2 linked regions of the Homo sapiens genome follow. The protein of the gene in region 1 interacts with the protein of each later gene in a biochemical or structural test. Each region holds a gene or a part of one and is shown on either strand. Other genes may lie near its edges.

Region 1 (7,000 bases):
CTCCCAAAGTGCTGGGATTACAGGTGTGAGCCACCACGCCCAGCAACTTACTCATCTTTACTCACTTAAACCATATTCTGTAAGGACAGGACAAATTTTCCTCCTATGAGAGAGTGGAAAAAAAAAATTCCAGTAACCATAAGATAATAATATTACCTTTATTTCTGCTTAGTGACAGTGCAATTTCAGAATTGTTATTCAAAGGACGGCGTTTTCCTTTCCCTACAAGCTCTGTATTTACAAAGGTTCCATTGCCACTGTGATCTTCTATGTATGCAATGTAAGAGTTTTTAGGACCCACTTCCTAAAATAGAGAACATTTTGTTTCAGACTTTGAATAGCAGAGATTTATAGTGGGAAAATATCTAAAAACAATGACCAAATTACCAGCTCTCCTAGATACATGGGTATTCATTACCTACCCTGAAAATCCGAAAGTGTTTCTTGCTGTATGTTCGGTATTTATCTGTTCTTTTCAGCAGTGGTTCATCAAAGCAATATTCACAGCTTTTGTCCCTCCCAAACCAGTAGTTGTCATTCACACATTCTGTAATATAAAAGCATGCATCAGAGGGCTGTTGAATTTCATGTATCAAACGTTTAAAAATTGCTCATAAATGCTAATTGTAGGAAAATAGCCTAAGAAGGCAATCAGAATTATCAATCTGCTTATCAAGATTTTACAAGATTAAAAATTAGGAGAGAAAAAACAACATTACCAATGAGTTTAACAAATGGCAGTTTATCTATAACCACATGGCCAGGCACAGTGGCTCACACCTGTAATCTCAGCCCTTTGGAAGGCTAAGGCAGGAGGATCACTTGACCCCAGGAGCTCATGACCAGCCTGGGCAACATAGGGGGCACCCATCTCTACCAAGAATTTAAAAATTAGTCTGGGCAACATGGTGAAACCCTATCTCTACAAAAAATAAAAAATCAGCAGGGTGTGGTGGTGGGTCCCTGTGGTCTCAGCTACTCAGGAGGCTGAGGTGGGAGGATCGCTTGAGCCCAGGAGGTCGAGGCTGCAGTGAGCTGAGACTGCGCCACTGCACACTAGCCTGGGCGACAGAGTGAGACCCAGTTTCAAAAAAAAAAAAATGGCCAGGTGTGGTGGCTCATGCCTGTAATCCCAGCACTTTGGGAGGCTGAGACGAATGGATCACGAGGTCAGGAGTTCAAGACCAGCCTGGCCAAGATGGTGAAACCCTGTCTCTACTAAAAAATACAAAAATTAGCTGGGCGTGGTGGCGGGTGCCTGTAATCCCAGTTACTCGGGAAGCTGAGGCAGAGAATTGCTTGAACCTGGGAGGTGGAGGATGCAGTGAGCCAAGATTGCGCCACTGCACTCCAGCCTGGACGACAAAGCAAGACTCTGTCTGAAAAAAAACAAAAAACAATTAACCAGATGTGGTGGTGCATGCCTGTAGTCCAGCTACTCAGGAGGCTGAAGGAGGAGGATCACTTGAGCAAGATAAGCTGATGCTACAATGGGCTGTGATCCTGCCACTGTACTCCAACCTGGGCAACAGAGCAAGACCCTGTCTCAAAAAAATAAATAAACAAATATTTAATATATATTATATATTTATTTTATATTTATTATATATAATATATATAATTTGTATTTATTATACATGTTATATAAATTTATTTTATAAGTTGTCTTAAATATAATTATATATTTATACACAATATAACATATATTATATATTTATAATATAGTAATTATATCTAAATATATAATAATATATAATATATATTATAATCTATTAATATATGTATTTATATACACAAACACACACATACACATACATATATATATAAAACCGTGAAATAACAAATAGTCATTAAAAGTTCTCGAGTAATTTTTAATGACTTGGAAAATTACTTGCAATACAGTAATTTCCTGCTTATTACCTTCCTGAGGTTTTCCATGACACTTAGCATAAAATCTGCACTCTTCCTCATGGCCTACTAGATGCTCAGGGTCTGGCGTCTGCCACCATTCCAGCCCCACCTCATACCCCTCTCCCCTTGCTCATGACACCCAGCACCACTGGCCTCCTTTCACTGCCCCCAAGAATGCTGGGTTCAATCTGCCTTGTGGTCTTAGCACTTCTTCCCCAACTACACAAATGGCTCATTCCACCTTGCCTTTTGTATAACAGATACTATCTACACAACACTATCTGCCTTTAGGACTCTACTATCATCTCCCACTCAGCTTTCTTTCTTTGAGATGGAGTCTCGCTCTGTCGCCCAGGCTGGAGTGCGGTGGCGCGATCTCGGCTCACTGCAACCTCCACCTCCCAGGTTCAAGCGATTCTCCTGCCTCAGCCTCCCGAGTGGCTGGGACTACAGGCACGTGCCACCATGCCCAGCTAATTTTTTGTAATTTTAGTAGAGACGGGGTTTCGCCATGTTAGACAGGATGGTCTCGATCTCCTGAACTTGTGATCCGCCCGCCTCGGCCTCCCAAAGTGCTGGGATAACAGGCATGCGCCACCACACCCGGCCTCCCGCTCAGCTTGTTATATAAACATTACTCACCTGTTATCATAATGTTATCCTGTTTTATATCTTTTTGGGTATGGGCCACGGCTGGAAATTACCTTGCTTATTTGTATATTTTCTCCCCACCTCCCTGCATTAGAACATAACCTCCAGGAGGGCAGCTGGAGACCTCTTGTTTAACAGTACAACTCCAGCACTTGGGATATTGCACATGGCAGGTAATTAAATGTTCATTGCAAGGCAGACTAGGGAAAATACTAGCAACTCCTATCAGGAAAAGGAATAATTTCCCTAATAAATGTTAGGTTCCTATAAATCAGTGAAAACGCTAAACAGTCCAGTAGAAAAATAGGTAAAGGATATGAAAAGATAATTTACAAGAAACAGAAATACAGCTGGCTCAAACATATGAAAGGTGGCCAAGCTAACCCAATATAAGAAAATTCAGAAATCAAAAACACATTAAGATTTCATGTTTTACCTATTAGATTGGCAAAAATCCAAAAGTTTCATATCACCCTGTGCTGGCAAGAGGTATGAAAAAGCGGGTACTCTCATACATTGCCATTGGGAATATAATTTATACACACATTGTCTATAATTGTCTAGGGAGGACAATTTAGCAAGATCTATCAAAATTACATATGGGCTGGGCACGATGGCTCACACCTGTAATCCCAGTACTTTGGGAGGCCAAGGAAGGAGGATCACTTGAGCCTGAAGGTCGAGGCTGCACTAAGCTGTGGTTGCACCACTCACTCCAGAGTGAGAGTGAGACCCTATCTCTAGAAAGAAAAAGAAAATTAACAAATCCAAATTTAGTTAGTTAAAAAGATCAACAAGTTGGCAAACCTTAGACAGACTGAACAAGAAAAAAAGAGACAAGACTCAAATTACTAAAATTAGAATGAGAGAGATAATTACTACTGATCTGACAGAAATAAAAATGATTTAAAAAGAATAATTGAACAATTGTGTGACAGTATTAGATGACATAGGTGAAATGGACAAACTCCTAGAAAGATACAAACTACCAAAACTAACACAAGAAGAAACAGAAAATCTGAATATACCCATAAGAAGTGAAAAGACTGAATGATAATCCTAGCACATTGGGAGGCCAAGGCAGGCGGATTGCTTGACTTCAGGAGATTGAGACCAGCCTGTGCAACATGGCAAAATCCCGTCTCTACTAAAAACAAAACAAAAAAAAATTTAGCCAGGTGTGGTGGCGCGCCCCTGTAGTCCCAGCTACTCTGGAGGCTGAGGCACAAGAATCGTTTGAACCTGTGAGGCAGAGGCTGCAGTGAGCCAATATTGTGCCACTGCACTCCAGCCTGGGTGACAGAGAGAGAGACTCTGTCTCCAAAAAAACAAAACAAAACAAAAGACTGAATGAGTAATCAAAATATCCCTACAAAGAAAAGTGCAGTCCCAGATTGCCTCACTTTAGCTTGAGCAACATAGGGACACCCCATCTCTATCAAAATAAAAAAATTAGCCACACATGGTGGCACATGCCTGAGGTCCCAGCTACTCAGGAGGCTGAGGTAGGAGTTGAGCCTGGGAGGTCAAGCCTGCAGTGAAACGTGATAGTGGGTAACACTCCAGCGTGGGTAAGAGTGAGACCCTGTCTCAAAAAAAAGAAAAAAGAAACACACGGCTGGCTTCATTTTAAATTCTATCAAATATGTAAAGAACTAATACCAATTATTCTCAAACTTTTCGAAGAAATTCGGAACGGAACACTGTCAACTCATCTATGAGGCCAGCATACCAAAACCAGACAGAGACATCACAGTAAAACCACAAACCAATATCCCTTGTGAATATAGATATAAAAATCCTCAACAAAACAGTAGCAAACTAAATCCAGCAACACATAAAAAAGATTACAAATGACCAAACAAGAATTAACCCAGGACGCCAGGCGCGGTGGCTCACATCTGTATTCCCAGCACTTTGGGAGGCCGAGGCGGGCGATCACGAGGTCAGGAGATGGAGACCATCCTGGCTAACACGGTGAAACCCCGTCTCTACTAAAAATACAAAAAATTAGCCGGGCGAGGTGGCGGGCGCCTGTAGTCCCAGCTACTCGGGAGGCTGAGGCAAGAGAATGGCGTGAACCCCAGGGGGCAGACCCTGCAGTGAGCCGAGATCACGCCACTGCACTCCAGCCTGGGCGACAGCGAGACTCCATCTCAAAAAAAAAAAAAAAAAAAAAAAAAGAATTAACCCAGGAAAGCTTGGTTGGTTTAACATCTGAAAACCAATTAATATAATACACGATAACAATAGAATATAGGAAAATAGACACAGAAAAAAATTTTGGCAAAATGCAACACCCTTTTATAACAAAAAATACTCAGAAAACTAGGAATAGGAGTAAACTCCTTCAACCTAATAAAGAGCTTTTATTTTATTTATTATCTATTTATTTTTAATTTAGAGGCAAAGTCTTGCTCTGTGGCCTGCAATCATAGCTTGCTGCAGTCTCCAACTCGTGGCCTTAAGCACTTCTCCTGCCATAGGCTCCCAAAGCACTGAGATTATAGGGTGAAAGAGTCAGAGCAACCAGCCAGAAAGCATTTTTTTTTTCTTTTGAGTCAGAGTCTCACTCTATCACCAACTAGCTGGAACTACAGGCTCCTGCCACCACGCCCGGCTAATTTTGTTTTTGTATTTTTAGTAGAGACGGGGTTTCACCATGTTGGCCAGGATGGTCTCGATCTCCTGACCTTGTGATCCGCCCACCTCAGCCTCCCAAAGTGCTTGGATTACAGGCATGAGCCACTGCACCCACCCCAGAAAGAACTTTTATGAAACATCCACAGCTTAGTCTTCAGATATCAGAGGAGAAAGGAGAGAGGAAGAGAGAAGAGGAGAGAGAAGAGGAAAGAAAAGAGGAGAGGAGAGGAGGGGAGGGGAGGAAAGGAAAGCGGAAGGGAAAGGAAAGGAAAGCGGAAGGGAAAGGAAAGCAGAAGGGAAAGGAAAGGAAAGGAAAAAAGAAAGGGGAAAGGGGAAAGGAAAAGGAAAAGGGAAAGAGAAAGGGAAAGGGAAAGACCCACAGCTAACATCATACTTAGACTGCAAACTGGCCGGGGATGGTGCCTCACACCTCTTATCCCAGCACTTTGGGAGGCTGAGGCAGGAGGATCAGATGACAGCAGGAGTTCAAGATCAGATTGGGTAACATGGCCAGACTCTGTCTCTACAAAAAATAAAAATAAAAAAGTTAGGCCAGCCACGGTGGCTCATGCCTGTAATCCCAGCACTTTGGGAGGCCGAGGCGGGTGGATCACCCGAGGGCAGGAGTTCGAGACCAGCCTGGCCAACATGGTGAAACCCCATCTCTACTAAAAATACAAAAATTAGCCAGGCATGGTGGCATAAGCATGTAATCCCAGCTACTTGGGAGGCTGAGGCAGGAGAATCGCTTGAAACCGGGAGGAGGAGGTTGCGGTGAGCCGAGATCATGACATTGCAATCCAGCCTGGTGACAGAGCAAGGCTCCGTCTCAATAAATAAATAAATAAAACTTAAAATGAATAAAGGACCTTAATTAAACATAAGAGCTAAAACTAGGCCAGGCACTGTGGCTTATGCCTGTAATCCTAACACTTTGGGAAGCCAAGATGGATGTATTGCTTGAGCTCAGGAGTTTGAGACCAGACTGCAACATGATGAAACCCCATCTCCACCAAGAATACAAAAAGTTAGCTGGGAGTGGTGGTGCACATCTGTGGTCCCAGCTACTCAGGAGGCTGAAGTGGGAGAATTGCTTGAGCCTGGGAGGCAGAGGCTGAAGTGAGCTGAGATTGTGCCACTGCACTCCAGCCTGGATGACAGAGTGAGATCCTGTCTCAAAATAAACAAACAAACAAACAAACAAAAATTTAAAAAAAGGAATTAAAACTGTAAAATTTTAAAAGAAAACATAGGTATAAATAATTAACAAATAATAATAATAAACAGCCTCGGCCAGACGTGGTGGCTCGCGCCTGTAATCCCACCACTTTGGGAGGCCAAGGCGGGCAGATCACCTGAGGTCAGGAGTTTGAAACCAGCCTGGCCAATATGATGACAACCCGTCCCTACTAAAAAATACAGAACTTAGCCACGGTGGTGGGCACCTGTAATCCCAGCTACTCAGGTGGCTGAGGCAGGAGAATGGCTTCAACCCAGGAGATTGAGGTTGCAGTGAGCCAAGATCGTACCACTGCACTCCAGCCTGGGTGACAGAGTGAGACTCCGTCTCAAATAATAATAATAATAATAATGATAAACAGTCTCTATTTATTCAGCACCTACTTTATGCTGGTCATCCTATCAGGATCTTTGTTTACTTGTCTTTTTTTGTTTTTCCTTTTTGTGGAGAATGGGGTCTCGCTATATTGCCCAGCAGGTCTCAAACTCCTGGGTTCAAGCTATCCTCCCACCTCTGCTGCTCTAAGAGCTGGGATTACAGTTGAGAGCCCCTGCA
Region 2 (7,036 bases), on another chromosome or scaffold:
TTGCCTTCTCTTTAGATCTATTGGAATTAGAAGATAAAAGCACTTTGTTTTTTAGAGATGGGGTCTTACACTGTCATCCAGGCTGGAGTGCAGTGATGTGATCGCAGCTCACTGCAGCCTCAAACTCCTGGGCTTAAGCGGTCCTCCTGCTTCAGCCTCCCAAATAGCTGGGACTGCAGGCACTTGCCACCATGCCTGGCTATTTTTTTTTTTTTTTTTTGTAGAGACAGGGTCTTGCTGTGTTTCCCTATCTGGTCTCAAACTCCTGGGCTCGAGCCATCCTTCCACCTCAGCCTCCCAAAGTGCTGGAATTATAAGCATGGGCCACTTCACCTGGCCAAAAGCACATTTTTAAAATATTAATGCTTAATTAATGTTTATGAAACATTCTGTGCCCATACCATATATTGGAATCACTGGTCACAGCCATCTCCTTTGAATAAAAGCTGTTATTATGAAAGATGGAAAAATTTCAGAAAACAGCAAAATAATTATTTTTTCCCCCTGAAATTATTACATTTGATGAAGATTTTTCCCCCTTTTGTTTACACCTGCTGTATATACCTGCTTGCTTTTTTTCCCTCGAGCTTATCTTTTGTTTCACTTTTTATCTACTGAACTAGTTGGGAGGACAAAAAGGAAACTCACATTTATTGAGCACCTATTATATGTTGAGGTCAGTAATCCAGTGAGTGCAACTGGCAGATAGTTGGAGGTTGTATTACATTGCCATGGCAGTTGCATAGATGGCACTGCAGGTTAGTTAGTGCTAATTGTTGCCTACCGCTTTGAGTTTTCTTCACATTCAGCTTCTCTTGTATTTGGTTCAACTAATATTATTCATCTTTCCTTAACAGTTGGTTACAGAGAGACACATTTCCCTTATTGATTTGAGGATTAAGGTCGTAGAAATATGGTTATGTGTTTAATTTTTAAATACTGTCCTATAATACTGCAGGCCTGGTTCATACACATTTCTAATAATTCTTTTAAAACCTCATTTATTTTTATGGTTTACTTACCTTTTAAAAAATATTTTGAAACTAGTTCTTTTTATATTTGTTTTAAAAGTTACATGAGGCTGGGTGTGGTGGCTCATGCCCTGTAATCCCAGCACTTTGGGAGGCCGAGGCAGGTGGATCACTGGAGGCCAGGAGTTTGAAACCAGCTTGGCCAACATAGTGAAACACCATCTTTACTAAAAATATGAAAAAAATTAGTCGGGCATGGTTGCACACACCTGTAATCCCAGCTACCCATGAGGCTGAGGCATGAGAATTGCTTGAACCCAGAAGTGGAGGTTGCAGTGAGCCAAGATCGCGCCACTGCACTCCAGCCTGGGCAACAGAGCAAGACTGTCTCAAAAAAAAAAGTTACACGAGTTTTTGATTGATCTCATGAATATTCTTCTCAAAGAGCAAAAGCCATCCTTATATCTTTGGTGTTATTTTGAATGGAGACAGAACAGGTAAGGCCTAAATATTCTCAGTCCTTTATGTGAGCCTAGTTTTTAAAATCTAAGTAATGTTTGTTTACACTGGACATAATATTCTTACTGCTTTTCTAGTGAGGAGATTTCTAGTGAAGATGATGAGCTGGTAGAAGAGAAGAAGCAGCAACGAAGAAGGGTCCCTGCAAAGAGGAAGCTGGAGATGGAGGACTATCCCAGCTTCATGGCAAAGCGCTTTGCCGACTTTACAGTCTACAGGAACCGCACACTTCAGAAATGGCACGATAAGACCAAACTGGCTTCTGGAAAACTGGGGAAGGCAAGTGTGTGTATGCGCGCATGTATGTGTAAGATAGGTTGTGGCAACTTGAAGAAGTTTTAAGAAATTGGAACTACAGCTCATTTATATGGATGTTGTCACGATGTAATGGTAATCATTCATTTCTATAGCAAAATCTACTGAACTTCTGGCACTGGGGTTTATACGATTCAGACTTGGGATTTTAACTTTATTAGAAAGAATGTTTTATTCTTAAAATTGAGGCCTTGTAAGTGTTCAAGTGCTGAAAATCCAAATACTTTAAAGGAGTGGATTTCAAAGCAATAATTATTAAAGTATCAGAAGCTAATCTCCGTGTGTAGAAAAATGATATGACCTGCTTAAGACTAACTTTTTTTTTTTAAGAACAATTATAGCCACTCACAAACTCAGTCCTTTACAGAAAGTCCCTCCTGAAAAGATGATTTTCTATCTCTCTGCTGACACAGAAAGATAGAGAAACCAATGTAGCTTGCCTTCAGCACTGATTTTCTGCATTATCTGACACTGCTTAATGTTGTTGCAGGGTTTTGGTGCCTTTGAACGCTCAATCTTGACTCAGATCGACCATATTCTGATGGACAAAGAGAGATTACTTCGAAGGACACAGACCAAGCGCTCTGTCTATCGAGTTCTTGGCAAACCTGAGCCAGCAGCTCAGCCTGTCCCAGAGAGTTTGCCAGGGGAACCGGTAAGAACTCTGTAATGCAGAGTGATTATGGGGAATAGTTTCTATGAGGCTTATTAGCTGAAAAACTTGTAGCTATTACCTGTTTATATAAGAGGTTAGTGAGAGAAAGGAAAGCAACACTACTTTACTGGATTACTGAGAGAAACTTGAGTGTATGTGAGAGGAGAGAGTTTTTAAAAATGGGGCTTCTATTAACTCCTGTGTGTCATCTTCTCTTAATTTTGAGTTTGATGCAGGAGTCTGGTAGTAGAAGCATTCATAATCCAATTTTCAAAATTCAGTTTTAAAGCTACTTCTGTAGAAATGTCAGTATTGAAACAAGTGTGTACTTTAGGCTCAACGTTTGCCATTTAGGTACTTTAGAAAGGGTGCAGAAGTGGAATAGTCAAATTCTTTTGTTTAAAGGAAACATTTAAAATTTTTTAATTATGGAAGAAATATATACTTAATCCTTTTTTAGTTTATAGCAACTTAAAATGAAAAGCAAAATTCTCTACTCTGAAAATTTCACTCCTGAGGTGAAATTTTTTTATTTTTTTTGTCAATTGCCTGTTAACGTAACTCCTGAGGTGAAATTTTCAGTATTTAATAGTTGTAACAAGTTTACAGTTAATAATTAATAGTTGTAACAAGTTTTTGGGTCTTTTCTATTTGTGTAACTATATATGTGTGCAAATAACAAATATATATGTATAAATATGGTTGCCTTTTTTACTAAATGAGAGACATTTATGTAGTATAAATATGTAAAATATTACAACTGTATTTAAAGTCTTGCAACTTTTAAAATCTAATAAGTCCTAGATACTCTTTCCATTTCATTACCTAGAGAGCTACCTCATTTTTCCTAATGACCTCAAAGTATTCCATTGTATGGATATGCACTATCATTTATGCAAACAATGGATATTATGTTGTCTCCAGTTTCAGAAACACTGCTACAGGAAAGATTCCTGTACATGTATTATGTGTTCGTATAAATATATGGGTAGATTTCTTGAAGTGGAAGTGTTAAAGAAAATACACCAAATTCTGATAGATGTTGCCAAATTGCCTCCAAAAAGGCTGCATTAATTTCAGTCGTAGAGGTGAAAAATGGTATCTTCTAATTCTAATTTACACATATTTAATTTGAATGAGGGTAAACATATTTTCATATGATTATTTATGGGTTTTTTTGGTCAACTGCCTGTTAATGTTTTTGCCTGTTTTCATATTGGACTGTTTTGTTTTTTAATTTTAAGAACTTTTTATATCTTAAGGAAAACAGTGCTTTGACTGTTCTACATATTATTTATAGTAGCTACATTAGTTAGATAGCCTTGTTGGGATTCACTCTTTTCTTACTCATTGTTAACATAGGAGATCCTTCCTCAAGCCCCTGCTAATGCTCATCTGAAGGACTTGGATGAAGAAATCTTTGATGATGATGACTTTTACCACCAGGTGAGACTTTTACACTCTCTTGTTACAAATCATGTTTTAGCATTTTAAAGCAGCTTATAGAATTCTCTGAACAAAGAAGTTGCTTATTTTGGAAGGATAGAGTCAGACAGTGAGTTAGAACTCCCGCGTTCAAAATTGACTTACAGTGTCATTGTGGATTTGTTGCTTTTCTTCTATTTTATGTTTTCCTTTTGAAATGAAAACAGCTATAGCTACTTTGTTGTTGCTTGAGTGTAAATTAGCTGTAAAACAGTTTCAGGTTTTTTTCTCTGAGTCAAGTGGGTTCTTTCTGAGCCATTTTTGATGATGGAGGATTTGTTAAGTTATTTGGTTTCTTGTCTCATTACTATTAGAATGGGCCGTGGAGCTGGAGGGCTGGGATCCCAGAGTTCCTGAATTGCGCTACTGATCCTATTATCTGTTAAATCTTGTTCTTAATGTCTTTTTGTGCCTGTCGAAGTCAGTTAAGTATGTATTGAGAATGTCTGCAACTGTTGATTATAATAAGAGCATAGTGCTTTTGAAGACAGAGAGAATTGGTAGAAGTTGAAATATAGTCCAGTTCTCAATATGTTTTCAGACTCCCCCACTTCTTTCCCTGACATTACTCTCTGCTGGCATGCTGTTCTTTTTAATGATGCCAGAGACTGTTAAGATAGACTAAACATTTGGGCTGTTCTAGAGAACTGAAATAACTTCCTGTATTCCTGAGTCTCTTGATAAGTTATACTTTTTTTTTTTTTTTTGAGATGGAGTCTCGCTCTGTCACCCAGGCTGGAGTGCAGTGGCGCAATCTCGGCTCACTGCAAGCTCTGCCTTCTGGGTTCACGCCATTCTCCTGCCTCAGCCTCCCGAGTAGCTGGGACTACAGGCGCCCGCCACCAGGCCTGGCTAATTTTTTGTATTTTTAGTAGAGACGGGGTTTCACCGTGTTAGCCAGGAGGGTCTCAATTTCCTGACCTCGTGATCTCCCTGCCTCAGCCTCCCAAAGTGCTGGGATTACAGGCTTGAGCCACTGCACCCGGCCAGACAAATTATACTTCTTAATAGAGTGTGTGTTTGGCTGTACCCTTTCTAGCTTAGTGGAGAATAGAGGAAGCTGTTCAGCAGTGATATACCAGTTATTGTTGAGCCATTGTTTATCAAGATAATTTTTTTCTCTGTCAAATTTTTAATGTGCTAGCTTTAGCCAAGTAATTTGCGACTGCTTGTTGAGGGTTTAGCCATGACTGCTGTACTGTGTATATGGATATGAAGAAGAACTTCTTAGGAAAATTACATGTAAAGTCAATATAGAACAAGTGATTTTATATTGGGGATACCTCTGGTCTTGCCCTAAAAAGAGAAAGAGACTTTCTATTAATTTTTTTTATTCATTCTATAATGTTTGATAAAATTATTGCCATAAGTAAGTCTTAAAAGTAATGACTAGAGGGTATAGGAAAAAAAGATTGGTGTGGCTGCAGCTGTTCCCTGTCAGAGGTCCTGATTCTTTTTTCCTCTTCTCTTATTATATTCATTTGTCAGAAGAGTAAGGAACTCTATTTTGTTCTAGAGTGTCTAAGGAAGTACCTGATATGGGATATTAATGCTGTATAATTGTGTGAGATCACGGGAGACAATCAAAAATGTTCCAGTCCTCATTAATTGAAGTGTACATTGTTCGATGAAAAGTGCATCATAAATTAAATAGGCTTAATAAAATAAAGTGAAATTACTGGGGAGAAGTTGCCTCTGTTGGCAATCCTTAGTCTGAATTTTTTTTTTTTTTTTTTGCCTGGAGGTCTGTTTAAAAAGAAATAGCATTACTTGATTGGCCCTTCATCCCAATTAATAATTTTAACTTCGATAAATTCTGATTTCAGAGTTATGACTAGTCACATCTTAGCTTTTCCCCTTGCTGGTTAATTGGGGTGCTGGGGTTAATCTAAATTAAAACTTAAACTAATAGAGGTCAGCAAGGCAGCTAAAACACCTGAGTGAAACAAATGGGGCTGCCAGGCACAACTTTATCTTGGCTGTTTCCCAAGAGGGAAGTGGCAGCAAATTGGAGTTGTTTCAGCCTTCTGTAAAGGTGAATGATGGGTGACACTTGTTAATGTACAGCATCTCCGGAAGCATTCCAGATTGCTTTGCTGCTACACCAACTGCTGCCATCCATGCACAGTCAGTAGGAACTGGACCAGTTGCCAACATCTGGCAGCACAGCAAGGAATGGGTGCAAGTCTTGAAACCCTGCAGATTCTAAATATGGTGCTTAGAACTGTGCAGGTTTTAATCACTTACCACTCTTTGGCAGCGGGCTACGACAGCTTATCCTAGCCTCGTACATCACATTCCGACATCTGCTGAGCTGCAAGGCAGCTGCACATTCATTTTCTTTTCTTGCCTTTTCTCTTTGCTTCCCATTCCCCTTCTTCTTCCCACTCCCCTCACCCTTCAGTTTTCCTCCCCCTCCCAAATATGCTTCTTGGGAGAGATGATCTGTAAAGATTACTGCTTCATTGTGTGCAAGTAATTGTGGTGATGCCAGGCCCTTGACAGACACAAGGTAGCACCTGTTCTGCTGACCTGGTTAATTTCTTCTGTTGAGTGGGATTTGCCAGAGATTGGAGCTGAAGCCAATTCAGTGATAAGGCTAAAGAAAATGGCTGTATGTTTTCTGTCACTTCCCAATTAAATTGGCTTCATAAAGTGCTTTCCTTTATTTGTCAGAGTAGTAAGCCTGAGCTAAGTGTTGCATTCAGAAGTGGTTCAATATATTACAATGGGCCTGTGAGTTTTCATTTGTGTGGTTTTTTTTAACATGGTCATATGGAAGAGCTGGGTGGTGAATATAATACATTCCCCCTTTTTTAAAACCATACTTGAAGCCAGACTCTTTGGGTTCATGTTTTGTAAGGAAGAGATTATAGCCACATTGAATTTTAATGTTCCATTGTAAGGGTTTAAAGGCTTACTTGGTTAATTCAGGTGTCTTGAAGCTGTGTGAATGCCCTAACTACTGAGAATGATGTGTGGGCTCAGAACACTCCCCCTCTACACACACATACTCATTCACACTTTCATTCTTTGTTTCTTAATGGGCTTTAAGTTACCATATCTTTCAAAATATACTTGTATTATTTAA

Evidence for each region. The genes of interacting proteins can lie anywhere in the genome.
Region 2: the proteins of CHEK2 (region 1) and AATF form a complex in vitro, tested with the Homo sapiens proteins (one study listed by BioGRID and IntAct).

What each region holds. Positions count from the first base shown.
Region 1 is NC_000022.11:28,724,821-28,731,820, forward strand, and holds part of CHEK2 (serine/threonine-protein kinase Chk2), read right to left. Parts: intron 5,729-7,000; coding exon of another isoform or gene 5,600-5,728; intron 548-5,599; coding exon 423-547; intron 305-422; coding exon 157-304; intron 104-156; coding exon of another isoform or gene 66-103; intron 1-65. UniProt on the Homo sapiens protein: Serine/threonine-protein kinase which is required for checkpoint-mediated cell cycle arrest, activation of DNA repair and apoptosis in response to the presence of DNA double-strand breaks.
Region 2 is NC_000017.11:36,986,952-36,993,987, forward strand, and holds part of AATF (protein AATF), read left to right. Parts: intron 1-1,567; coding exon 1,568-1,769; intron 1,770-2,295; coding exon 2,296-2,460; intron 2,461-3,822; coding exon 3,823-3,906; intron 3,907-7,036. UniProt on the Homo sapiens protein: Part of the small subunit (SSU) processome, first precursor of the small eukaryotic ribosomal subunit.